Linked DNA regions of Homo sapiens. The protein of the gene in region 3 purifies or fractionates together with the protein of the main gene of each other region. This does not show direct contact. Each region holds a gene or a part of one and is shown on either strand. Other genes may lie near its edges. The genes, in order: PDIA6, IRS4, MTNR1B and PPM1G.

Region 1 (7,028 bases), on a different chromosome or scaffold from region 3:
GGGCTCCAACTGCAGCAGGAAGGGCAGAGGGGCCAGAGCTAGGCCGTCCTCCTGTGTGAAGGGCCCTGGTCAGTTAAAGAGGACTCTGGTTCCCCAGGGTTTCCAGTCAAAGCATGAACAGTGCTGTTAATGGTGCACTTTTGTTTTTATCTTCAGGTCTGGTGAGCTGTACCTTCTTTCTGGCAGTGAATGGTCTGTATTCCTCTAGTGATGATGTGATCGAATTAACTCCATCGAATTTCAACCGAGAAGTTATTCAGAGTGATAGTTTGTGGCTTGTAGAATTCTATGCTCCATGGTAAGTATTATAAAATAGTTGTAGATTATTTATAGTACTTTCTGAAATTGGAGAAAACGCTGTATAAAAATCTGATTTTATTAAGACATCTAGTTTAGCTTAGTGTTTGTTTAAAAGAAGTAGAGAAGAGGGAAATGGGAAATGCAAAGTATCTAGTCTGTTGTTAAGGAAGATCTGTCTTTTGATGAGGTGATGCGTGTGGAAGGAAAACTGCTTTTATGAGGAAGGAATCTTGAGCAAAGAAAATGGAGGGGCCAGTGATTAACTTCACTCTGTTTCTTGAAGAGAATTATTTCCTGAAAAAATGTAGTTAGAAAATCTGGTTTAATTTAAAAATTCTTTTCTTACCTTACATTCAATGCTGGAAGAACCCTTGTGGGGTAAAAATGTAATCACCATTGAAACTAACAGCACAAAATTATATACAGTCAAAAGTACAACATTGCACTAGTTATTTGTGTGATTAAAGCATTTAATGCAAAAAAACACCAAATAGAAGAGTGGAAACTGTGCAAGATGTATATGAGGCTGTCTCTGCTGTAAACCAGCAGGCCACAAGTATCCTGAGAGGAGAACCAAACCCTAGCCAGCTGTGTGTCTGTGAAGAACTGTGTGGTTATCTGAAATCCCAAGGAGTCCTTTGACATGTGAACAAGGCTTTGTAAGCTTAAGTGAGGGATATTAGAACCTGATGGGTACATTTTAGGGTATGCCTGATGAAACTTTTTCCTTTCTCACTTTAACTTTTTTCTTTGAAACTAAGTTTTAGAAACTAACCACCAGTCCTCATGGACCATTTTACTTCATGCTCAGTGTAGCAAATGGAGGTAAAAACGCTCTATTTTCAAAGTGGATGTTGCCACATTGTGCGTCCTGTCCATCTAATGCCTTTACTGTTTTAAAGGCTCTGGTATATATGTGTTCAGTCCAAATGCTAATTCTGTGTGGATTAGCTCAATTATACTAGCAAATACATAAATAGTAATTGTACAAACTGTTGTATTGTTAAACGTCTCTGTATGTGGTTTTTACAAGCTTATCATATATGGCATAGGTAATTTACCTTGTTTCTGAGAGCGACCATACAAGAGAAAACTCTGCAAGACAGCATAATTGAGAAGGCAGGATCTAGATCCACTAGTTAATCATTATTACACTGGCAGAGTTTTACTTTGTGGTGTTTGGGTGACTGAATGTCTGATTAGAGCAAGCGCTTTTTTTGAGAGACAGGGTCTCACTTTCTCCCAGGCTAGAGTGCAGCAGCATGATCACGGCTCACTACAGCCTTGATTTCTCAGGCTCAGGTAATCCTCCCACCTCAGCCTCCCCAGCACTGGTACTACAGGCATGTACCACCACGCCCTGCTAATTTTTGTATTTTTTATAGAGACGGAATTTCACCATGTTGTCCAAGCTGGTCTCTAACTCCAGGGCTCAAGCAATTCGCCTGTCTCGGCCTCGCAAAGTGCTGGGATTACAGCTGTGAGCCACTGCACTGGGTCAGGCAGGTGCTTTTTAACTTCCTTTTGTGCTTGGATTCCTTTAGCATCTTGGTGAAGGCCTTGGATTCTTATAATAAAACTTTTACGGTCAGGCATGATGGCTCACGATTATAATTTCAGCAATTTGGGAGACCACGGTGGGTAAATTGCTTGAGCACCAGAGTTCGAGGCCAGCTTGGGCAATGTGGCAAGACCCTATCGCTACGAAAATAAAAAGAAAAGAAACAAATTACCCAGACGTGGTGCCGTGTACTTGTGGTCCCAGCTACTCAGGAGGCTGAGGTGGGAAGATCACCTGAGCCTGTGAGGTAGAAGCTGCAGTGAGCTGTGATTGTGCCACTGCACTCCAGCCTGGGCAACAGTGAGAGCCTGTCTCAAAAAAAGAAAAAAAAAAAGATCTCCTTTAAAAAAAAAAATCAAAATCAAACCTTCACGTTTAAATAAAGCTTATAGAATCGCAAAAAAAAACCTAAAGTATGGAAATATGATTATTGAAATATTAAAATTTTGATGTTAATGTAGTACTTTACAAGAACAGTAAGTACAGGTTGAACATCTCTTATCTGAAATGCTTGGGACCAGAAGTGTTTCTGATTTTGGATTTTGTCAGATTTTGGAAGATTTGCATAATACTTAGCTGTAGAGCATCCGTAATCTGAGAATACAAAATCTGAAATGCTCCAGTGACTGTTTCCTGTGAGTGTCATGTTGTCGCTCAGAAAGTTTTGGATTTTGGAACATTTCAGGTTGTGGGTTTTTAGAATAGAGATGCTAAACCGGTACCAAGATCCAGCAGCAGGCTTGACAGCTGCAATAATTCTGAATAGTGATGGGCATAAATGATGTTTGAAGATACCTGCAGCAACTATAGTGGCGATCATGAAAACAGCTGTGATTTTCATTCATGATAAAGTCACAATAATTGACTGTGGAGTGTTGTTTACATTCGTAAGGAAATTCTAAATTTCGATTACAGATTAGTGAAAATAAAGACTTTTTTTTCATCCAAATTCATAGACTCCCTCCCCTAAATTTTTCCTAAAAGGCCACCTTGGCTTCAGATTTATTCTTTTTTTTTTTTTTTCTTTTTTTTCCTAAAAGGGATTCCCAAAATTTTTATCCACCAGCCCTTTGGGAGTCTGGACCCCAGTTGCAGAACCCCTGGGTAGACTGTATGCCATATTTATATGTATGTGGCATTATGATGTATGTGCAGATCAAATAGAAGAGAGGATGAACTCTGACAGTCTCTGAATTTAGTCCTCCTTTCTTAAACTGAAATTAAAGAGGCACAAAACCCTGTAAAAATCTGACTTCTGAATTTTTTAGTATCTCACCTAAACAACAAAACATACTGTATGTAAATATGTAGAAGTAGCATTTCAGGACATTCCCCCGATAGACCCTAACTTCAGATACTGGGATTGAGTTTAGGCCCCAATACTCAGTTACATAATAATTACGACTTCTACCTGTATGATTGTAGTGTTTGGAATCAAAAACTTGTCAGGCAGCTCTGACACTGGATGGCTGTGATATTGGGTAAATTTCTTCTCAACATCAATTCCATCATCTGTAAAATGAAATAACAAGAGGACCTGCCCTCAGCTTCATGCTGATTAAATGAAGTCATCTATAAGTGTTTTCATCATGGTGCTGGCACCTAGCATTTGTGCATTTGGTTCTTAGAGACCTAATTAGAAGAGAATTTACTTTGTTTTTAAAAATGCATTAAATCACCAATGGATAAACTATGGTGTCTGCATACAGTGAATGTTACACAGCAATAAAAATAAACAGTATAGCTACCTACAACCTCAATGAGTGGTAAGGGCTAATAGGTTTACGCACATGTAATTTTTTAAAAGCGCTTTTCTGTGTTGTATTTCCCAATAATAGTACCTGCAAGGTTAAGGTTGTTTTTCCTTGTGTTCTCTTCTCTCCTCCTCTCCCCACTCTCTTCCGCTTTCCCTGCCTCCCCCCACCTCAGTCATTCACTCACATCGCCATCTTGTGGTGTCACGTCATGCTTTTCGGCTTGTTAGGCTCACTAACGTGGGTTTATGCATGTGTTTCTAAGTCCAGAAGCAATTTGCGGGACCCAGAAAGTATTGAGATATAGGCATAGTTGATCTGGGCCAGATACTTCATATATAAAATTAAAAAGTTGGACTAGAGACTATCAAACCCCAGTAGGTTTAAGAATCACTAGCAGAACTTAATAAAATGCACTTCTTCCACTAGGAAGTTTGGGTTTGTGGACCCCAAGAATCTGCATCGTGCCTAGGCTTTCAGCTCCACACAGTGAAGCACATTGGACCAGATAGATTCTAAAGGGCTTGTTGAGGGTGTAGAGTTGTAAATTATAGAGTTTAAATGTGATTTAATTGAGCAGTAATTCGGAAGCTTTTTTTTTTTTTTTTGGGTGGGGGACAGAGTCTTGCTGTGTTGCCCGGGCTGGAGTGCAGTGGCACGATCTCAGCTCACTGCAACCTCCGTTTCCCGAGTTCAAGCGATTCCCCTCCCTCAGCCTCCCCAATAGCTAAGATTACAGGTGTGTGCCACCATGCCCAGCTAATTTTTGTATTTTTAGTAGAGACAGGGTGTCACCATGTTGGCCAGGCTGGTCTTAACTCCTGAGTTCAAGTGATCTGCCTGCCTTGGCCTCCCAAAGTCAGGCGTGAGCCACTGCACCTGGCTGGAAGCTTTTTTATTAGGATGATATGAAAAGTGATTGTTGTAAGTAATAAAATGGTGAGTTCATCCAGGTTGCTGATCCTATTTTACTTATTTATTTTTATTTTTATTTTTTGAGACAGAATCTCACTCTGTTGCCCAGGCTGGAGTGTAGCGGCATGATCTCAGCTCTTGCAACCTCTGCCTCCTGGGTTCACGTGATTCTTGTGCCTCAGCCTCCCCAGTAGCTAGGATTACAAGCGTGCACCACCACGCCTGGCTAATTTTTGTATTTTTATTAGAGACGGGGTTTCACCATGTTAGCCAGGCTGGTCTCAAACTCCTGACCTCAAGTGATCCTCCCTCCTCGGCCTCCCAAAGTACTGGAGATTACAGGCGTGAGACACCGTGCCCGGCCTTGATCCTGTTTTATTTGTGCTTGTCCTCTTTGCAGGCATCTCATTCAATAGACCATTGATGGGGTTTTTTAATTGAATTTTTGAATTTTTTGAATTGAGAATCAAAGGCTTTAATGGTTGCTTTGTGTTGTCTTCCCCCAAAAGGTGTGGTCACTGTCAAAGATTAACACCAGAATGGAAGAAAGCAGCAACTGCATTAAAAGTAAGTTTCTTAGGAATGCAAAAGGCTTACAAAACTTTTTTTTACAGTAAGTTTCTAAGATGTCCATATTCACCTGTGTATGTTTAAGTAATAAGTATGCAGATGGTTTAATGTTCAATGGGAAGCTAGTTTGCATATCAGAGTTGAAAATACTGGTTCTGTTGTCAAAATCATACTGAGAACAAGGGGATAATACACATTTAAATGTTTACATTGCCTGTTTTTGTTTATTGTTTTTCCCAGATAAATGACAGTTACTCTCAGCCCTGCCAATTCTGTGAGCTGCAGAGTTCCCTCCATGGGCTTTGATTTCCCCCATCATTCCATTTAGATTCTCTTCTGGTGTTCAAGGCTAAAGCCCTTATTGACTGATTGCAAACTGCACCCTGTGCTTTATTACCTTTTTCTGAGTCTATGTGAAGCAGATAATGAGTTCTTGTGGAGTCTGCTTTAGCGGAAGGAAAAATTGTTATTTCTTTTACATTTCCACAGGATGTTGTCAAAGTTGGTGCAGTTGATGCAGATAAGCATCATTCCCTAGGAGGTCAGTATGGTGTTCAGGGATTTCCTACCATTAAGATTTTTGGATCCAACAAAAACAGACCAGAAGATTACCAAGGTAAGGACTTTTCCTAGCTACTTCATTCCCCTGGTAGACAAGAACCTACTGTTCTTTAACAAGCTTGAGAACCTGCTCTACCTGCAAGGTTCTCAACCTCATTGTACCTGAATTATCTATAAATGGTACACAGTGATTCCTATACCCTCCGAGTCATTCTGAAGATGAAATATGTGTCACACAGGTTTGTCTCATCACTTAACGCTTGCTTAGGTCTATGCTACATTGGCAATGATAGAAAATAGTGTTCTGTGCTACCCTGTTGTCTTTCTCATTACAGTCACTTGTATTTAATAAAGATCTACATGTATTTTCTTGCTCTAATCTCTCTTCCCTTTACTGTAGGAAAAGGGTCTAACATAACACTATGGAAAAGGAGACTGTAATTTGAGAGTCTTAGTCTCCTAAACTGTCAATAATAAATGGATACCACAAATTCTGTTTTGTAGATAAGTAAATTGTTAGTGTCTGCTGTGAGCCACTGAGGCAACTAAAGAAAGAATTCAGGTTTCACCCTCCCAAGACTAAATGTTATTTCAGCCACACTATTCTTTTTTTCTTTTCTTTTTTTTTTTTTTTTAAGAGACAGAGTCTTGCTGTGTTGCCCAGCCTGGACTCAAATTCCTAGGCTCAGGCAGTCCTCCTACTTCAGCCTCCCAAGTAGCTGGGATTACAGGCACCACACTCTTAGAGAATTGTCTTGTTATTTAATTAAGATATCACAAACGGGCTGGGCATGATGGCTCATGCCTGTAATCCCAGCACTTTGGGAGGCCAAGACGGGCGGATCACGAGGTCAGGAGATCGAGACCATCCTGGCTAACACGGTGAAACCCTGTCTCTACTAAAAATACAAAAAATTAGCCGGGCACGGTGGTGGGTGACTGTAGTCCCAGCTACTCTGGAGGCTGAGGCAGGAGAATGGCGTGAACCCGGAAGGCGGAGCTTGCAGTGAGCCGAGATTGTACTCCAGCCTAGGCGACAGAGCGAGACTCCGTCTCAAAAAAAAAAAAAAAAAAAGATATCACAAACAGATTATTCTATTTAAGATAATCAGAGTTGCTGGGTTGGGCCAGATCCATAGTGCTAGTAAAAGTATTGGGCATAATTTGTTTGAAGCTGAAATTATGACTAATTTGGTAAAGGTTTTTGTTGAAGATTTATATGGAACATATGAGTGACTGAACTTTGTCATCTTAGGTTTTGCTTTATGTGAGCAGTATCAGCTCATGGGTTGGGTGGCAGCATCAACATCGTAGTAAAAGAGTTGTCTGTCATCGGTGACTTGCCTGAGTCCAGCTAATAGAAGGCA
Region 2 (7,028 bases), on a different chromosome or scaffold from region 3:
AAAAAAAAAAAAAAGAGTAATTTAAAGAGCAAGATTAAGTGTCAAGGGAAGGAGACAGAAAAAAAAAAAGTAAATGATCACCTCAACCTCCTTGAGTAGTTGCTTCAATATAGGATTCACTCATTATCCAAGGTCTGCATGAAATTTTAGGTAAGTCATTTTATAAATTGTTCTACACTAGTATCACCTCTACATTTGAAAAATCAAGAGTTGACTTTATTGACTCTATTGAAAAGCCTCATGTTTCTAGGCAAAGTACCTTTAGCCCAAACCCTAAAATACCCCATTTGTTTCATTCTGAAAAATGCAGTCAATCCTACTACAAAGCAGGAAAATATATTTATAATAAAGTAGAGACAATAGTATTAAAAAATGAATCTCTACAGGAATAATTTACATGAACACATTTATTGTGAGTAGCTGTATGGAAAGGCAAGTCAGATATATATAGATATACATATATATATAAACACTATACAGAGTTGCAAAGTCGTCTCCCAAAACTGCAAACGAGATGTTTACAAGGAAAAGAAAGTACAAGAGTATTTACAAAGGAAGACAAAGCCAAAGCAACTCAAAGCATATCTGTGAAGCAGAAATAGCAGATGTAATTAGCTGGTGGAACTGTAAAGTTTCAGTTTTTAACGACCAAGTGACTATGCCTGATATCAAATTAAATGTAGAGGTCACACACACAAAAATATTCCATCATTGTTTTTTCTTAGCAGCATGAACTGATAGCTGGAAGGTAAGTGATAAGTTGGTAAACATATTCCACAAAGATTCTTCCAGCACAATACTGAATAAATTAATTGTCTGTAAACTAATAAATAATGAGAACAAGATTGCATTTGTTATGCAGTACCTGTGACTATGTGTACCTGTTACTATTTGTATAATACGTACTACTGTGTATGAGGTTTCTCATTCATTTATTCAGCAACTGTTACATCTGTGCTGTACCCTCTGTACCCTGTCTGCTGGCAGCTTCTGAACCTAATATGCAAATAAAGTGATACAGTATTTTCCCCCAAGTAATCTTTTTTCCCACAATTCTGAACAATTATTACTTAACTTACTTGAAAAAATAAAATGGTGACAGAAGGCTTGAAAAAAAGTTGCCTAAAGAGCGCGTTGTTATAATGAACAAAAGCCACACTGCGTTATTTGATTAGGTTGGAAAAAGAGAAGAGTCTGAAGGAACTGATAAAGTTGATGCCCTAGCAGTGACCAGTAACTGGAACAATGACTGATCTCATAGCCACGTCCTCTCCTCAGCACAATTTACAAGAGGGAAAAAAGAGCCCACCATCCCTTTGGTTGGTAGGCAAGGAAAAATAGAAGTCAACTCGGTTCTTTGGAAAAGTTAGTTTAGCAACACGTACTATAAGCTTGCTTGAAGATAGAAGTACACGTTCAAAGACATTAAAACCAAGTAGTGAAAACCTTTAGATAAATATTACACTACTTCAAAGTTGCACATTAAATGCGAAGCAAATTTCATTTTAACAGAGTTTACACACAACAGGTACATCTACAATCACATGTACACAGGTACACAAAGTGTGCATACACACGAATATGTACACACACACACTAGTGCTCACACACATACAAACACACCCAACTGTGATATGATGAGGTTTGCCAATGATGGTACAGCAAGCCAAGATTTGTGTGCCACCACGGAACAAAGCTCTAAGCAAGCTTCAAGACCTTTGTACCTATTCTCTGTGGTCACCACCTTGCTAGTGTCACGTTCTCAAAGGTCCAGGTACCTAAAATCTTAATTCAGTTTACATCAGAGGCAAGCAAAAATAGAACGGGGGGGAGCTTGCTCTGATTTTTTTTTTTAATTTGGTACATCTTATATTGGCTCAATATCCAGAAGGAAACAAGGCCTTATAAGAGGTTCTTTTTGGCTTAAGTTTTTGTCAGAATATTGATTGATAAGTAAACACTAATTTCTTGAATATGGGAAATTGATCTCTTTATAGTAGCCATGGGCATAAGAGGAAGAGTGTGCATTGGGGAAAATGGAGAAAGAATAAGAAAAAGTAGAATAGAGGTTGAAAGTGGGGAGAGGCCCAGAGAAGCAGGGAGGGGCCTTGGGAAGAGACTTTTGAAGAGCTTTGTTTCTTTTAGGAGGTAAATGTAGGTTTCACAATAAATGAAAAATAATAGGTTTGGAAATACTCAATCGATTTTCAGGCAGAACATCACAGTGTTGTATGTGAACAAATAGCTGTTTCTCAGTTCTGCCTTTAAAATGTTGGAAATGCTCAATCAAGATATTAGTTTCATTGACATATAACATGAGCAGAATGTTGCAGTTTTGCTAATGAGCAAAACTTGAAATAATCTGCCCTTTAGTCCTGCCTTTAAAATACTGGTAATGCCCCATCAAGATATCAGTTCAGTTGACATTTAATTCATTGATCAAGAAATGTTTTGTGTGTGTAATACTCGGAAAAAAGATTCCAGATCATACCTTCCTTCCAATTATGACAGCTGTTTTTTCTTTATGTGCCCTGGTTTAAAGTTTTTCAACTTCAAAATTGAATCTAAATATTTTACATTATTAAAATTGGCATTGACCAAATTTATATGTATTCTAAGTTACTTTTTTTTAAAGAGGGAAAGAGTTATGAGATGCTCACTTGTATAGTATCTGTTTCCTTTCAAAGGGACAGACTGGGGAGGAAAACCAGAAAACAAAAAACAAAGCACAGTGTAAATATTGTTAATTAGAAATCACTGGATCCATAAGCAGCAGTATGAATGATCTGCATGAATAGGATCATTCAATTGCCAGAGTCCACTTGTAGGCTTGTAGAAATTTGGGTTGCTTTCTACTCAGAAGCCTCTGAGTTTTCTTTCCTTTAGGCAGATCTGGAGTAGACGAAGATAAAATTCCATAAGCATCACTTTTCTTCTAAAATGTGTTTTTGTGGCAATATAATCACTCTAGGAAAAAGATAATAAAACAAAAGTTACTTGCAGAATTAATGTGGAGAGCTGTCACCCCCACCCTGTTTTAAAACAAAACAACACAAAACAAAACAAAATCTAACTAGAAGTTTTTGAGAGATATACAGAGGAGACTGCCTGGGCATGGACATGGTTAATCAACTCTGCTGGCTGCCTGTGAGGAATATCAGCTGGGCAAAGACACAAGGGCAGTTATTCTTCTTGCCCCCAGGCTGTCACTGACATTTCTGGTGGACAGCATCTTTGCACGTGCGTGCACTGTTCTACTTTCTTCCAGTGGAGCCCAAGAGTGAGCCAGGCATTGTGCAGAGAAACAGATTTTTTTCTTCTTCTTCTACATGTTTGACTCTGCCTTCACCAGGTTATGTGGCACAAGTCATAGGATTTAAGTACAGCATTGGTGATGGTCTCTAGACTCAATCATTGAATTTCTTCTAATAGAACAAAGTCATACCTGCAAAGGAGACTTGAAATTCCCATCTGTTTAATAAAAGAAAAAAGTTCCAGCATTATTCTCTTGGCTTTCTGCTTTTGAGTGGGTGCATAATGGGGAGTGTGGCAGGGGGTGATCAGATACATAGAAGAAGGTGCTGGACCAGAGAAGGGATAGGAATAAATGATCAGCAAATTGATTATGGGATGCCAGTGTTACCTTAAGATCAGGTCACCACAAAGTACCAAGTATTCTATTTTATTTGAGACATCTTAAAAGAATCCATGGAAAACATCCCCCAGAGTGGGCTTCAAGTACAAGATTGTCTATTAAACTGGAAATATACATTTTAAGTATTCATTTTCTCATCAAAGGTTTTACAATTTTTTTAAAGAGATGAGGTCTCACTATGCTGCCCAGGGTGAAGAGCAGTGGCATCATTATGGCTCACTGCAGCCCCACCCAGACTCCTGGGCTCAAGGATTTTTAAAATGTAACAAATTTGCAGCTGGATGAAGCACTGAGTGGGAACAGTACATTTCCCTCTTACTAGTTGTGTCTCTTCATTAAGATTCAATGTATAGGTTTGTTCTTGTAGATTAGAAGTTTAAAAAAATGCTAGCCATGGTGGCTCATGCCTATAATCCCAGCACTTTGGGAGGCCAAGGCAGGTGGATCCCTTGAGGCCAGGATTTCAAGAACAGCCTGGGCAACATGGTGAAACCCTGTCGCGCAACTACACTCTAGCCTGGGTGACAGAGTGAGACCCTGTCTCAAAAAAATGCCATAGATTAGTAAAGGTATTAAGCTTTCCTGTCAGCAGTGGGTTTAGGAAATTTTACATTTTATGTATCTAGTTCTACACAGGAAGAAAGGAGTCTGTGATAACCACAGTTAACTGTGAGACTGCATATTAGTAACTGTTAATTCGCTGCAAAATTAGGCTAGACCAGTACCAGTATTACAGTGTTATCAGATATCAGCTACATTTTAAAATAGATATTTAAGGTTAGGAAGGTATTTCACCTAGTTTAGTTTACTATTTTGTTTTAATACCAAAAATATTTTCATATGTCCATATATAGCACATTGCATGTGCTTTAAAAGGGACTTCTTGCTGTCTTATATGATACACTGGATTTCATATATATTTTCCCAGAAACCTGCAAATTAAGCTCCATATAACTACCCTATTGGCATTATACTAAGATTAGGAACATTTGCTTTTATTGGAGTTGTTTTTCTTTCTCTTTCCTTTTTTTAAATGACAGAGCCTCTACTAAAATTTGATTCATATTGCCATTGCTTTCCTATAACACCTACACCAGCATTAAGTGAATGTTTGGTAACTTAATAAAAAGTGACAAATAATTGTGTAATTTCATGTTTACTTCACAAAATACATTTGTCAATTCTTGATTAACTATGCTAGTAGAAAGGAATAATGTTATCCCAAACAGGATAATCCCAAAATAATTTAACTTGCTTTTGAAATGCATTATGGGAACTTGAGCCACAGATTTGCCTTTATAATCCTATTTTACTTAGGCCAATATTAAAATGAGTTTACATTCCCGGGGCACATTCCAAAGAACAGCGTAAGGAAGCAACTCAGAAGCTTGCTGGGTGGCAAAGGAAAGCAATTCGAGATTAAAACTTGGTTGTGAACAGTCTGCAAAATGAATATTAAAGGGCTAAAAGTCATACCTTAGATTTGTCTCCCGTTCATTTTTATGTGATTTCACCATCAGCAAGGTAAATGGTGATGCTTGTAATAATGTGGTCTGTTTTGGATGTATTATTCCCATTTGATACTGACAGGTTATAAATACTTACCTTATTGTATATTCTTATTTTCCCAATTAATCAAAGGTCTTTTAAACAACAAGTTAATTTCACCCTTTTTAATGGGTGGTATACTCTTCAGGTAATTTTTCTCTGTAATATAGAAAACCTCAGTGGACTCTGATGAGTCAAAATATTTCCCTACTCCTCCTACCAAAATCTGGCAGGGAACTTTTTTTTCTCAAAAACAAATGAAGTAAACTTTTCTGTTTCGAGTTATATAATGATATAAACCTGAACATTAATCTTTAATACGCTAATAATGCACAGATGACTTCAATATCCCTGGAAATTTGTAGGGTGAGCCAAGTAGGCAGTTCCTCCAGGGTATTTCAGACCTCTTTATATGAATCATAAATATGCCTCTATTACATTTTGAAGTCCGAAACAGCAGTATTTCCTCTGCTCAGAGAAAGGTGAACCTATAACAATATATTGTTATTCTCTCATTCTCTTTTCCCTTTCTGCAAACTTATTGTCTTAGTTATCTTTTCAGCTCCAATTTTCCTGGAGCTCAAAAATGTTTTTCAAGGGTTTTTGCAAATTCCTCACTCTGTTCATTTGACAACATGCTATCCCTGCACCCCTGTGATCAACTGGAGCTCACATAAGCAGGGGCAACCAAGTAAAGCACCAAAAAAAAAAAAAAAAAGGGAAGCAAAGAAAGATATGTTGAAGCATACATGCCAAAGATGAATGTATAATAATGCAATTATATTAGTTAGCTTAGCATTGTCTCTGGAGTATATGTAGGTTTTTTTGTTTTTTCTCAATAAGAAAGGATCATCATACTTTTCTGTGCCCTGTGATTGTAGAGGAGGATGACTCTCTAGGACTTGATAAAATTAAGTGCTATTGCTCAAGGCTAAAAACTAGTAATAATCGCTGCTAGTCTTTACAACACCAATTATACCAGACTATTATCTCCTTCATAGATCGGATGATAAAATACCTTTGTTCCCACAATGGCAATAGTTTTGGGACAGAATGCTCAAAAGAATCTGTAAGGGAAATGTATGACACTTGTAAACCCCCATCTCCTCAAAGGTCAGCTCAATCGTTTTACACCTGCCCTTTGTTAGCAGGCCCTGGGCCACTTATGCATGTGCATTCCAGTCTTGAGTATCTGGATACAAACTCTATGGAGATCAGCTACAGGATTTTCATGGTAGGTCAGCTTCTCCACTACTTCCCAACACACACATGGGCCACTTCACTCTGCTGCCTAGTTACTGCCAACTTAAAGAATGCAAGTTACTAGAATTCTAATATAGGCAGTTTCAAATTTACAAAACAGACATATTCCAAGGTCATTGTTTAGTTGAAACTCAGAATAAATTATCTTGTAGAAACAATGTCATAAATTAATGGTGGATAGGTTTATAGCTTTGTCTAGATATGCCTATATTTAACCTATGCAACTCCTGAACTAACAGAGAACTATTTTGACTATACCCAGTCATCATTTCTGAGGGAAGATGTATGTGAAGTTTCAGTTTGAGACTCCAGGAATATATGTCTTCCAGCCATGGCAATAGGAATTGTGTCCCCCATACTCAACCAGTTGGAAGAGTCGGAGGCAGGGTGACAGCCGAAGGGAAACTATGGTAAAAGCTGCAGCAACAATAAGGACTTCATCATGGAGGTGGGTGGGGGCACAGGACTCTGAGTGCGAGGACAAGGTTGGTAAGCTTTCAAGACTGGAGGCATAAAACTTTAAAAAGCAAGAGTAAAAAATCACATTTGCTGGTCAGACTTT
Region 3 (7,028 bases):
CAGGGAGACAGGATGTAACTGAATAGAAAGGAGATTGTCTGGACAATTAGAGCGCTTGTGAGGTAGTGAGTTTCCCTGTCTCAAGATTGTCCAGCAAGTTGGATGGCAAAGGAGAATCATGACTCAACTGAACTGCTGGATTCCTACCTACTCTACTATTCACAGATTTATTTACTTCATGGGTTAAAAATGACCTCATTTCCTTTCTGGTTGGTACAGCAAGGCAAAAAATGTGCAACAAGGACCTGCTTGGGATGTGGAGGGGTTTTGTGCCTTTTAATTTAATTCTCAGCCCGCTGGCTGTCTCCACTGCTGGATCTCCATCTCTGACTCATCTACACAGACCTCACTTGGTTCCAAGAACATGAGGGATTCCCTCTCTCACATTGCTTGTCTTCAGCTGAATCAGGAACCCTTGTCTCCTGAGAATTTTATGTGTCCTTTTGAAATCTGGAGGGTTGTGCTGAAGTCAGAGAAATCTGGGATAATCTGAGTCCTGCCACTTTATGGTTGAATGAATTTGGGCGAGTTCCCGAGTTCCTTTCTTGGTGACTATTCCTACATGAGCTCCTTTCTTTTCTTTCAGAGCTCTGCCATCACTTCCCCCTGCACACTCATAGGGTTGGTTCTGTGAAGAGAATCACTTCTCTCCAGCACAGGAAGATGAGTCTCCATAGGACCCGCTGGGCACCTGGCCCAGCAACACACAAGCTCTTGGCACTTGCAAGCTGAGCAGAGAAAGTCAAGAGCTGCTGGGAGCCGGTGCCAGCTCTGCCAGCTGTTTCCCTGTGAAGGCAGAGTCAAGTTCTGCTGTGTTAATGTGGCTTATCCCCTAATAATGCCCCAGAGGCTGGCAAACAGCTTGTAAATAGTAAGAAGAACACATTCAACTCCATGTGGAAAGTGATTCAATTACTATCCCCTATTACTCTGGCTGTTCCTAAAAGGCTGAAATCAACCACTTCCTGCTATAGATTCATCTGCCCAGACATCCCACTGTCTCCAGGCTTTCTTGGCACAATTCCAAATTAGATGAATAAAATTTGTGTTTTGTCTTCCATCTGTAAGAAGCCAGGTCCTATGTGGATGATAGTCAAGGGGAGATCCAGTTCTCCATCCATTTCTTCCCCAGACAGGTGAGAAATCACTCAGTATGCACACAGCACTGCAGTCACCGTGTGCATAATGAATATTTATGTCATGGGTCCTGGCGTGACTCGTTTCCATCTGCCTCCAGCAGATAGGGTGTATTAGTGGAGAGAGGCTTTGACAAGAGGGCTTTGTTTACTAACATGGAATCCCCTTCAGGATTCATACGCAGAGCGCATCCTTTCACACACACAACCATCACAGTCTCCTCCCTCTTCTCTTCCTCTCTCTTTCTTTCTGGAAAATGTATTTCTTAATGGAGATCTGGTAATCTAGGAAAGAGCCAGCCAGTGCTGAGCTATCTAATATTCGTCAGATAGGAGAATTCTGGAAGGTAAAGCTCCCTGTAACCCTTGCCCCCCTCCTCTGTGCTCACCCTCCATGCTCAGAAGAAAAATTTGGTTAGACATAAATTCTCCTTGGTCATTGAGCTAAAAGACAAGATAGAAAGAGAGAATCATCAAGTCATTTATGTGACAAATATTGCTGAGTATATACTAGGTTCTGCCTTTGACTATGCCAGATGGACAGGCTACCTCCCCTTATAAAGTTTATGGTCTCTTAGGGAAGACCATTAAACAAATAAAAACAAGGTGCCAAGAGGGATATGTTGGGGAAGTCAACAAATGATCTATGTTTTCTAACAGTGTTAAACTTTCTGTGCCTTGAGGTCTTCTTCCACTCTTCCATCTGTTTAAATGTGTAATATATTTATTGAGTGCCTACCACATTCAAGTAAGACGCAGTGATGGATGAAAGACATGGCCCCTGCCATTGAGATGCCCATGGAACTGTTAGGGAAACAAAAGAAAACAGTAGCCATTCAATTAGGTGAGAGCTGGAAGAAAGGCCAGAACAAGGTGGTGGGAACAGTGGGGAATTTGTGAGTCAACTTGGGACTGGGGACAATGGCAGGATATGGGGTTGGTCAGGCACGACAATTCACCAAGGAGCTACACAAAATTACCAAGACTTTTGCAACAGAACTCCTAACTCCCAGAATGGCTGTTTACCTCAAATAAGATGTTGTATGGGAAAGGTCATGAGAAATAACAATAATCACCAAATTAATGTGAGATATTCTTATTATGTTCTGGGGATGGGCATTTGAAATAATTGACCATATAATTTATTCACAACTTGATTTTCAAACAAACACTAAAACAATGCATTTATTGTAAGCTTGTAATTAGATTCCCAAATCTCTTGAGAGCAGATATTTTTTTCTTCCAAAGTCACATATTTATGAAAATCTTAGGATGTGTGGATGAATCATACAAGAGCTGAGTTGAAATCTAACTTTGATTTAATTAGAAAACAAAAACTGGCTAATCAATAGTGTACACAGATATATATGGGGGTATTTCAACCACTTAAAAGAAGAAAATATATTTAAGAACATAAGCATCCATTTAAAAACATAACTAAGATGCTTTACAAAATATTCTTCAATAACCATCAAAAGAGATCATTTTGAAATTCTGATAGGTAACATTTTATTACTTTACACTTAATAGCAACAAAACAACCATTGATATAACATGGTGAAGTTGATAGTATAGTTTTACATAAATGGACTCCATTGTTTTTCACAAGAATTCCTTAAGGTTGACAGCATGATTTCTGTTTTATAGATAAAGAAACAGACACCCAGTTTGTGTGAATTGCTCATAGCCATAACACAGAAGGATTGAGAAAGAACAAGAAGAGGAGAAAACCAAAGAAAAGAAATATCAAGGGAATTAAGAGAAAGGGTGTAGAGAGTTTCTTGGTCATCTACAAAAGTGAGAAAGGACAGAAAAGTGCTCATTGGACTTGGTAGTTAGGAAGGCAGTAGTGACATTAACAAGAACAAATTCTGTTGAGAGCTTGGGGATCCAGTTTTGCCCTGGAGATTGCTCTATCAGTGTTGCCTTCAAAAGAAGGAGATAGAGAGTGGCGCTTAGGAAGGAATATCCCTTTGATAGGGGACAGTGGAGGGCTTTTTTTGCCTTTTCTTTCTCTCTTAAAGGAAAGAGACTTGAATCTGGCATATAACAAGCACTAGTAATATTAGCTATTATTTGTTATTACTGTTTTATATTATTAGCTGTACTGACAGATCAAGAAAGAGGCTCATAAGGTTGGACTGGGATCCCTGTGAGATAAGATGTGAGAAGTAGTAAGGACATGAAGATGAAGAAAGTAGGACATTCCTTCTAGATGGCAAACTCCCTAAGAACTGGGGCTTTACTTCCCAATTCTCTATCTCTACTCCTCCAGCAGTAAGTATTTTAAATTGAAAGAGCCAGTAGGAGCTTTCAGTATTCTCTGAATTTTGTGGTATATCATATCCGAATGCAGAATCCAGCTTTCTGGAGATAAAGACAGGCAAACATTAAAGTCTTTATACCCTTGAGCTACTGAAAGTTACATGGGAGGAATTAAAGAGGATTATTAGCTTTCCTGATTATTCAGCTAAAGACATAATTATGGGATTTAAAAACTGTTCATTTTTGCTCAGTGAAGAGGCAATAAGGTATTCACAGCTGAAATGCAAAGTTGGACAGCTTAAGAAACATTCAGGAAGGAGTCCAAGGTTACCCAGTTTGGTCTTGGGCTGATAATGGCACTCTAAACATTGCAGGCTGAGCAAGTCAAAAGACACCTGATGCCAAGTGACATCTCAATGAGTGGTCGGTGGTAGGATAGAAGCCTTGATGGAGTGGGCTCCACTTCATTCTATAACTTGGAGGGTAGGGGCTGTGGGCCTATTAAGCATTTCACTCTAGGCCTTCCAGAGCCTTTGTTCAGAACCATGCTGCTTATTAAGCATCATTTGCTGTCTCAGTCAACAAGTTGGAAGAGAGGAGGCAAGGAACAGGGGCCACAGTGCAGACTGTTTTCTAATCTAACCGGGGAAGCAAAGCACCTGCATAGGCAGAATATTCCCATCAGGAACCTCCCAGGCAGTTACTGGTTCTGGATAGGAGATGGTGTGAATTCTTAGCATCACTGGGGGCCTGGAGGAGGGGCAGCTTTGCCAGCATAGACAGAGTGACCTTGGACAAAGATCTGTGTGTTCAGCAAGCAAATCCTCCATGTTTTCCTAGGCAATCTTAACATCAAATAGTTCATATATTTCTGCTTTACCAATCATCAACGTACCCCAGAAATGCCAATTCGTGCACTCACTAAACCTCCCAGACAGCCTCTTTAACCCATTTGCAGCACAAAAATCCATTGTCAGACCACAGCTTCTGACTGCTACTTGGAAAATTAAGGTGGCTGTGCCTATGGAGCCAGGAATAACTGGTGTTGTTATGACTTCCTCTCTGATAGTGGAGAGTACTTGGGTGTTACAGTGAGGACATGGTTCTCTCAGCTCTCTTATATGGCCAGCATATTACAGGCAGCTTAAAAGTGGCCACCTCGGGCCAGACCAAGAAAGGGGCTGTATTAGTCTGTTTTCACGCTGCTGATAAAGACATACCCAAGGCCGGGCACAGTGGCTCACACCTGTCATCCCAGCACTTTGGGAGGCTGAGGTGGGTGGATCACCTGAGGTCAGGAGTTTGAGACCAGCCTGACCAACATGGAGAAACACCATCTCTACTAAAAAATACAAAATTAGGCCGGGCGCGGTGGCTCACGCCTGTAATCCCAGCACTTTGGGAGGCCAAGGCGGGCGGATCACGAGGTCAGGAGATCGAGACCATCCTGGCTAACACGGTGAAACCCTGTCTCTACTAAAAATACAAAAAATTAGCCGGGCGAGGTGGCGGTCGCCTGTAGTCCCAGCTACTCGGGAGGCTGAGGCAAGAGAATGGCATGAACCCCAGGGGGCGGAGCTTGCAGTGAGCCGAGATTGCGCTACTGCACTCCAGCCTGGGCGACAGCAAGACTCTGTCTCAGAAAAAAAAAAAATTAGCCAGGTGTGGTGGCTCATGCCTGTAATCCCAGCTACTCAGGAGGCTGAGGCAGGAGAGGTTGCAGTAAGCCGAGATCATGCCATTGCACTCCAGCCTGGGCAACAAGAGTGAAACTCTGTCTCACAAAAAACAACAACAACAAAAGACATACCCAAGGCTGTACAACTTACAAAAGAAAGGTTTCATTGGGCTTACAGTTCTACATGGCTGGGGAAGCCTCCCAATCATGGTGGAAGGCAAGGAAGAGCAAGTCATGTCTTATGTGGCTGGCAGCAGGCAAAGAGAGAGAGCTTGTGCAGGGGAGTTTCTCTTTTTCCATCAGATCTCATGAGACTTATTCACTATTGTGAGAACAGCATGGGAAAGACTTGCTCTCATGATTCAATTACCTCCCACCAGGTCCCTCCCACAACATGTGGGAATTCAAGATGAGACATGGGTAGGGACACAGCCAAAGCATATCAGGGGCAAACTCCCCAAGAGGAATCAGTAGGGTACAACCATGGCATGGCTGGAAACTGCTGAGCAACTTTACTCACACAGGAGAATCACAGAACAAGCATGCCTTCATGCAGAAGGTGCCAATAGTCAGCTTAACATGAGATATACTTTGGGCTGTTCTCAAAGCAGTTCAGTTTCATGAAAACCTGTATTGATTACTTATGCAGTGCTGAGTACTGTAACTGAGGTCTATCCCAGCTCATGGAGCAAAATCAATTAATTTTCCCCCACTACCTGGTGTCTTATCCATTTCCAATTTAATCAGAGATGTGTTCTGTTCTTACTATGTGTCTGGCTCTGTGGACAGAAACTGAATGAAAGTGTCTGCTCTCAGCAGGTACACGGTCCAGCGGGGAGAGACAAAGAACAATAGTACAGTGAGGGGGATGCTGTACTGGGGAGGGCACAGGTATCTTAGAAGCCCAACAAGGGAGACACTTACTATCCCCTTCATGGTATTAATAATCAACATTGATAATCCTTCAGGGGAGTTGGGGAAGGAGTTGAAGGAGGAGCAGCTGTTGACTGGGCAGAAGAGGTAGAGAAAGTACATCAGGGAGTGCAGACCCTTTGGGAAGTAGCAGCAGCTCACTGTGACACTGGTGAGAGGAGGGCAATGAGGCTGTAAGTTAGGTGGGCTAGGCCAGCCGCAAATGGCCGTGGGAGCTGTGCTCTGGAGTTGGACACTGTTCTGGAGATGGAGGGCAGCCACTGAAGACAGGGAAACTCTTGGCAGTGGTAACAGTGGCTGGGGGAGGGAGCAGGAAAAGCTCTCAAGCACTATGGATAGTGTTTGCTCAAGAGATGATGAAGGCATGAAGTGGGGCAGTAAGAATAAGGAGGCAGGAAAGGGAGAAATTGAGAAATAGTGGAAGGTAAAATCATTAGGACATGTGGAATGAAAGAGTAGGAGGAACCAAAGATGACTTTCAGGGCACAGGTATCCGGGAGATGAAGAGAAAAAGGAGATCCAAAAACTAGCACCAGGTTAGCCGAGGGAATGAAAGGTCCCACAGAGGGAGTGGCCCTCAGTGTCACACACAGCACAGAGGAACATTTCCAGAGAATGGCGCCCAGAGGACTGAGGAAGGACGGGAAGCAATGGGGTAGAACCAGTAGATGTCCACAACTACATTAAAATGTCTGGCTGAAAAGGGAGGGAGAGAGGTAGTGATGAAGTTAGGAGGACATGAAGTCAAGAAAAGAGTCTTTTGTTCTTTTAAAACAGGAGACTTTGTGTATCGTGTGTGTGTGTAACATGGAGGAAGTTTCCAGAAGAGAGAAAGGAAGAGCTCAAAAATGCAAGAGATAAATATTAGCGAGGTGTAGCTCAAGGGTCAGGGCAGCAGTGGTGAGCCCAGGAGGGAAAGTTCTCAACGGCTCTCAGTAGAGTCAAAAGTGTGGCAAGTCCCTGGGAAGCACAATCTGACAGGCGTGAGGTGCCAACCCAGTGCCATGGGCTGTGCA
Region 4 (7,028 bases), on a different chromosome or scaffold from region 3:
CTAGGGAGGCTGAGGCAGGAGAATCGCTTGAATCTGGACAGAGTGAGATTCTGTCTCAAACAAAAAGTTCAAACATCATTAGCCATTTAGCCATCAGAGAAATACAAATCAAAACTACAATGAGATACCATCTCACACCCACCATTAGTTATTATAAAAAAGGTGGATAAGTGTAGTGAACATGTGAAGGAACTGGCATCCTCATATATTGCTGGCAGGAATGTACGACGGTACAGCAACTTTGGAAAACAGTTTAGCAGTTTCTCAAAATGTTAAACACGTAGTTACCATATGACCCAGCACTTCCACTCTTTGGTATATAACCAAGAGATATGAGGACATATTTCCACACAAAAATTTGTACATAGTATCACTATTTATAATAGCAAAAAAAAAAAAAAAAAGTGGAAATCCAAAATGTCTATCAACTAATGAATGGATAAACAAAATGTGACAAATCCATACCATGGAATATTATTCAACCATAAAAAAGAACGAAACACTGATTGATTCATGACACAACATTGATGACCCTTAAAAATATTACGCTTGGCCGGGCGTGGTGGTTCATGCCTGTAATCCCAGCACTTTGGGAGGCCGAGGCAGGCGGATTGCCTGAGCTCAGGAGTTCGAGACCGCCCTGGGCAACACAGCGAAATCTCGTCTCTACTAAAATACACACAAAAAATTTAGCCGGGTGTGATGGTGGGTACCTGTAGTCCCAGCTACTCGGGAGGCTGAGGCAGGAGAATCGCTTTAACCCAGAAGGTGGAGGTTGCAGTGAGCTGAGATCGCATCACTGCACTCCAGCCTGGGCGACAGAGGGAGACCCTGTCCCCAAAAATAAAAAATTAAAATTAAAAAATTATGCTTAGGCACAACTATGATACATCAACTGAAAAATATCAGGCTGGGTGTGGTGACTCATGCCTGTAATTCCAGCACTTTGGGAGGCTGAGGTGAAAAGATTCCTTGAGGCCAGGGGTTCAAGGCCAGCCTGGACAACACAGTAAGACCCTGTCTCCATGAAAATAAATGAATAAACAACAATAATTAAAACTGACCTCCTGGAGATAAGAAAAAGAGTTAACTAGGAGATAAGAGAAAATTCAAGAATTGTTAAGTCATTAATTTGAGATGGAGTTCTGGGTCTTTTGCTTCCCTTCCATCAACTAAGTGAGGAAGGTTCCAACAGAAACAAATGGGAGTGCCTAAAAGAAAACTAGCATCTCTTTCCTGGTTACACAGGCAACAGACTTGGTGATCTGCCTGAGCTCTGTCTATCTGAACAGAAGGAGAGAATTTTAAAAAGTGCCCACTGGAGCCTGAACCATCCTGCTGGTATCCATCCAAAGGAGTCCAGCAGTATGAGGTCAAGGATACACAGCAGGTGGTAAAAGCCACAGAAAAGTCTAAAAACCAAAAGTGGAGATCAAGTCCCTCTGGGCCAGGCCTGGCTATTGCTGCAAACACAGAGATGGTGAGTGATAACTGGATATGAGACTGGAGTTTTAAAGAGATTTCTGATTCTATTAAGCTCTGTAAAATAAAACCTGCAAGGCACTGATCTAGAAAGAAGCAAAAGAACCTTGGGTCAGCAAAATACTTATTCTTAAATCTACTACAACAATGTATGTGTGATTTTTTTAAAAAGAAACTTACAGGCAAAGCTGAGGGGTAGAGGGAATACTTGGGGTGGAGAGTAATTTACTCTTCCAGGGGCCAACAAGCTTTAAAGTCAATTTCAAAAATACACATGCTTAGTAAAAGCATCCAGATATAAAAGGTAGTGTATTTAGAATTCCATTTATAAAATGTTCAGAATAGGCAAATTCATAGAGGTCATGTAAATTAGTGGATGCCAGGGGTTAGTGGACGGAAGATAGGGAGTGACTGGTAAAGAGTACAGGGTTTCTTTTTGGGGTTCTAAAACTGATTGTGGTGACAGTTGTACAACTCTGTTTGAATACACTACAAAACAGGCAGGCACGGTGGCTCATGCCTGTAATCCCAGCACTTTGGGAGGCTGAGGCAGGCAGATCACTTGAGGCCAGGAGTTCGAGACCAGCCTGGGCAACATGGTGAAACCCTGTTTCTACTGAAAATATAAAAATTAGCTGGGTGTGGTGGCGTGAGCCTGTAGTTCCAGCTACTCAGGATGCTGAGGCAAGAGAATTCGCTTGAACCTGGGAGGTGGAGGTTGCAGTGAGCTGAGGCTGCGTCACTGCACTCCAGCCTGGGTAACAGAGCAAGACCCTGTCTCGAAAAAAGAAAAAAAGAAGAAAAAAAAGAAAATATACTAAAAGCCACTGAATTATACCCTTAAAATGAATGAATTATACCCTTAAACCCACTGAATTATACTCTTAAAGTGAGTTCATATACTGTATGGTATATGAACCATATGTGGTATGAACCATACAGTATATGAACTCTATCTCAATAAAGCTGATTAAAAAGGAACCTGTAAGAAATAAATAAAATAAAAAGGAACCTGTATACACATTTTCAAATACTAAATATGATTAAAAGGTGTTGTTTTTCTGCTAGCATTGGGTCAAAAAGGAAAAAAAAGTTGATATACTTCATCTCTGAACTAGATCTAGAAAGAAACAAAAACAACTACACTGAAATCATACTCTGTCTACAAAATGTCATTAAACATCTTAAGCTCAGTTCTAAAGATTTGTTTCCAGATAATACAATGTCAAGAACTACTGATCAGACCTGTATAAATTTCTATGTTCAAATTCAAGCCCTTACCTCTCAAAATTCAATTCTAAGACTAATAACCCAATAGAAGATTAGAGGTTAGGGAAACAGTAGTAACAACTGCTAAGGAATCAGACAATAGAACTTTGTGTAAAATATCCTTGAAATCTTGAGGAATACGTTCTGATTGTATTTTCCAGTTGCTTGAGAACTTATAAGGCAATGGTATAAAATATAAAATAATTTCTAGACCAGGCATGGTGGCTCACACCTGTAATCCCAGCACTTTGGGAGGCCGATGTGGGTGGATCACGAGGTCAGGAATCGAGACCATCCTGGCTAACATGGTGAAACCCCGCCTCTACTAAAAACACACACAAAAAATTAGCCAGGCGTGGTGGCGGGCGCCTGTAGTCCAGCTACGCGGGAGGCTGAGGCAGGAGAATGGCATGAACCCGGGAGGCGGAGCTTGCAGTAGCTGAGACCGCGCAACTGCACTCCAGCCTGGGTGACAGTGTAAGACTCCATCTCAATAAATAAATAAATAAATAAATAAATAAATAAATAAATAAATAAATAAAATAAACATAAATAAAATTCCTCAGCCTGGGCAACACTGCAAGGCCCTATCTCTACAAAAAAAAACTTAAAAAAAAAAAATTAGCCAGTCATGGTGGCATGTGCCTATATTAGGCTGAGGCTGGAAGACCCCTTGAGCCCAGAAGGCTATGCAGTGAACTATGATCGAGCCACTGTAAAGGCAGATAAGTGTAGTGAGGATGTGAAGGAACCGGCACAAGAAATCCCATACTCCTTACCACTCAAGCATGGGCAAGAGTGAGATCCTGTCTCAAAATAAATACATAAATAATTTAAAAAATAAAAAGGCCGGGCACAGTGGCTCATGCCTGTAATTCCAGCACTTTGGGAGGCTGAGGCGGGCAGATCACTTGAGGCCAGAAGTTCAAGACCAGACTCGCCAGCATGGGAAAACCCCTTCTCTACTAAAAATACAAAAAAGTTAGCTGGGCATGGTGGCGAGTGCCTGTAATCCCAGCTACTTGGGAGGCTGGGGTAGGCAAATTGCTAGAACCCAGGAGGCAGAAGCTGCAGTGAGCCGAGATGGCACCATTGCACTCCAGCCTGGGCAACAAGAGCAAAACTCCAACTTAAAAAAATAAAAAGAAAATAGTTTCTCCATGCTCATGGGCATACATGTGATATAATTCTATACTAGCTTTGAACTGTGAATGGGTACTGCATGCTAATCAAATGCAAATAATGCGTTTTTATAAAAGTTGCTAACCACATTCTAGACAAAGAAATTCTGGCCAGGCGCAGTAGCTCACGTCTGTAATCCCAGCACTTTGGGAGGCGGAGGCGGGCAGATCACCTGAGGTCAGGAGTTCAAGACCTGCCTGACCAACACAGAGAAACCCCATCTCTACTAAAAATACAAAAAATAAGCCAAGTGTCGTGGCACATGCCTGTAATCCCAGCTACTCAGGAGGCTGAGGCCGGAGAATCACTTAAACAGAAAGGCCAGTGAGCCGAGATCACACCACTGCACTCTAGACTGGGTGACAGAGACTCTGTCTAAAAAAAAAAAAGAGAGAGAGAGAGAAATTCTGACCTGGTTTAGTAAGTAAAAAGCGCTTTAAGCTATTGGCTATTGATATGAGATGCTAATCTGAAGATAAGAAAATAAATGTTTTTCAACCTTCAATGCCCTAAGGTAGAACCCCATAGCATACTTGTGATATTTCTTTTTATATTTTTTCCATTAATTTAATGACTGAAACAAATATGCAGGTATTTTAAGAATTTTCTGCTCAATACTATCTTTATAGTCAATTCTAGATGACCCCTTGACCACTAATAAGCCAGCTTCTACACAGCAATAAATAGCCAGCCTCCTCAAAATTATACTATAGATATTGACACTGCCTTTAATAAAAGGAAAATATGATTTATAGCACAAAAAATTCCTGGCCGGGCACGGTAGCTCACATCTGTAATCCCAGCACTTTGGGAGGCCGAGGCAGGTGGATCACAACGTCAGGAGTCTTGAGACCAGCCTGGCCAACATAGTGAAATCCTGTCTCCACTAAAAATACAAAAAAAAATTAGCTGGCCTGGTGGCAGACTCCTGTAATCCCAGCTATTTGGAAGGCTGAGGCAGGAGAATCACTTGAACCCAAGAGGCGGAAGTTTCAGTGAGCCGAGATCAAGCCACTACACTCCAGCCCGGGTGACAATGCGAGACTCCGTTTCAAAAAAAAAAAAAATTCCTAACTCTCCATAGAAAGCAGTTTTGTCACTTCCAGAGAACCTCACAACCAAATATTAAATGTACTCTTGTCCCCTTAAGACTACATCAACTGATGGGCCAGGCATGGTGGCTCACGCCTGTAATGCCAGCACTTTGGGAGGCCGAGGCGGGCGGATTAAGAGGTCAGGAGTTGGAGACCAACCCGGCCAACATAGTGAAACCCTGTCTCTATTGAAAATACAAAAAATTAGCCGGGCATGGTGGCAGGCGCCTGTAATCCCAGCTACTCGGGAAGCTGAGGCAGGAGAATCGCTTGAACTCAGGAGGCAGAGGTTGCAGTGAGCCAAGATCATGCCATTATACTCCAGCCTGGGCAACAGTGCAAGACTCCGTCTCGGAGAAAAAAAAAAAAAAAAAAGACTACATCAACTGAATCTATTTTCAGATTTGACTTCTTATTTAGCCAACAAAAACTCAAGGGCCTTACCTTATAATTTTTCAGGCACCCCTCCACAACCTACCTCATTTTTTTTTTTTTTTTTTTAAGATGGAGTCTCACCCTGTCGCCCAGGCTGGAGTGCAGTGGTGCGATCTCGGCTCACTGCAACCTCCGCCTCCCAGGTTCAAGCGATTCTCCTGCCTCAGCCTCCGGAGTAGCTGGGACTACAGGCGTGCGCCACCATGCCCAGCTAATTCTTGTATTTTAGAAGAGACAGGGTTTCACCATATTGGCCAGAATGATCTCGGTCTCTTGATCTCGTGATCCGCCCACCTCGGCCTCCCAAAGTGCTGGGATTACAGGCATGAGCCACCGTGCCCAGTGCCTACCTCTTAATCCCAAAGTACATACCTCATCCACTTTTTTCATGGAGAAAGGAGGAAGGAGGAGAACATCAACTGTGGTGGTTTTTTTGTTTGTTTTTTTGAGACGGAGTCTGTCACCCTGGCTAGAGTGCAGCGGTGAGATCTCGGCTCACTGGCCTTCCTATTCAAGCAATTCTCTGGCCTCTGGCTAATTTTTGTATTTTCAGTAGAGACGGGGTTTCACCATGTTGACTAGGCTGGTCTCGAACTGACCTCAGGTGATCTGCCCCCCTCGGCCTCCCAAACTGCTGGGATTACAGGCGTTAAGCCACCACGACTGGCCTGTGGTATTTTGATTACCTTTTCTCAAAACACCCTGGTTGCTGGGCATGGTGGCTCACAGCATTTTGGGAGGCAGAGGCGGGCCGATCACCTGAGGTCAGAAGTTCGAGACCAGCCTGACCAACATGGAGAGACCCCCATCTCTACTAAAAATACAAAATTAGCCAGGCGTGGTGGCACATGCCTGTAATCCCAGCTACTCAGGAGGCTGAGGCAGGAGAATCGCTTGAACCCGGGAGGCGGAGGTTGCAGTGAGCCGAGATCATGCCATTGTACTCCAGCCTGGGCAACAAGATAGAAACTCCGTCTCAAAAACAAAACAAAACAAAACAAACAACAACAACACCCTGGTCACACAGGAAGAGAAGCTTGAAACAGGCAGAAAGTAAAAATGCCAGCTATTGATGATTGCCATTTTTGTCTCAAGAGTCCTCTCTACGGCTAAATCTATCCATCAGTCAGCATGTCAACAACCTTTAGTGGTATGATAACCTTACCTCAAATGAAGCATTAGGACCAAGCAAATAGGGTAAATAAACTTTATTAATTTTTGGATTAAGCCCTAAAGCTTCAGAGGAATGGGAGTACTTTATATTTTCTGGAAAGATAAGATTCAGGGAAGAGGCTAGAACTCATAGTTATTTTCTTGCAATAGCAAAGAAACTATGCTACACTTTGAAGAGAAAAAAAGCCAGAAGGAACACTATCAATGAAGCAGAATAGGATCCCAAACAATACTCTTCAAGAGGATTTGATTAGGCATATTTAACTATTGATTAGGCATATTTATTCAAACAAGGGCAACTTCAGAAACAGCACATTAGCAAGATTTTAATACCCTAAGCAGTTATCTCTCAGGAGGAAGATTAGGATGTAAGGAATAGTCTAGTAAGATCTC

What was found.
Region 1: the proteins of MTNR1B (region 3) and PDIA6 purify together in Homo sapiens (tandem affinity purification; 2 studies listed by IntAct). This does not show direct contact.
Region 2: the proteins of MTNR1B (region 3) and IRS4 purify together in Homo sapiens (tandem affinity purification; 2 studies listed by IntAct). This does not show direct contact.
Region 4: the proteins of MTNR1B (region 3) and PPM1G purify together in Homo sapiens (tandem affinity purification; 2 studies listed by IntAct). This does not show direct contact.

Annotation. Positions count from the first base shown.
Region 1 is NC_000002.12:10,795,769-10,802,796, reverse strand, and holds part of PDIA6 (protein disulfide-isomerase A6 isoform d precursor), read left to right. Parts: intron 1-156; coding exon 157-298; intron 299-5,039; coding exon 5,040-5,097; intron 5,098-5,589; coding exon 5,590-5,716; intron 5,717-7,028. UniProt on the Homo sapiens protein: May function as a chaperone that inhibits aggregation of misfolded proteins. Negatively regulates the unfolded protein response (UPR) through binding to UPR sensors such as ERN1, which in turn inactivates ERN1 signaling.
Region 2 is NC_000023.11:108,719,557-108,726,584, forward strand, and holds the end of IRS4 (insulin receptor substrate 4), read right to left. Parts: exon of another isoform or gene 3,472-7,028; coding exon of another isoform or gene 3,446-3,471; exon of another isoform or gene 2,968-3,445; coding exon 2,963-2,967; coding exon of another isoform or gene 2,857-2,962; 3' UTR 390-2,856; downstream 1-389. UniProt on the Homo sapiens protein: Acts as an interface between multiple growth factor receptors possessing tyrosine kinase activity, such as insulin receptor, IGF1R and FGFR1, and a complex network of intracellular signaling molecules containing SH2 domains.
Region 3 is NC_000011.10:92,972,635-92,979,662, reverse strand, and holds part of MTNR1B (melatonin receptor type 1B), read right to left. Parts: intron 2,505-7,028; exon of another isoform or gene 1,973-2,504; coding exon of another isoform or gene 1,876-1,972; intron 1-1,875.
Region 4 is NC_000002.12:27,399,564-27,406,591, forward strand, and holds part of PPM1G (protein phosphatase 1G), read right to left. Parts: intron 1-7,028.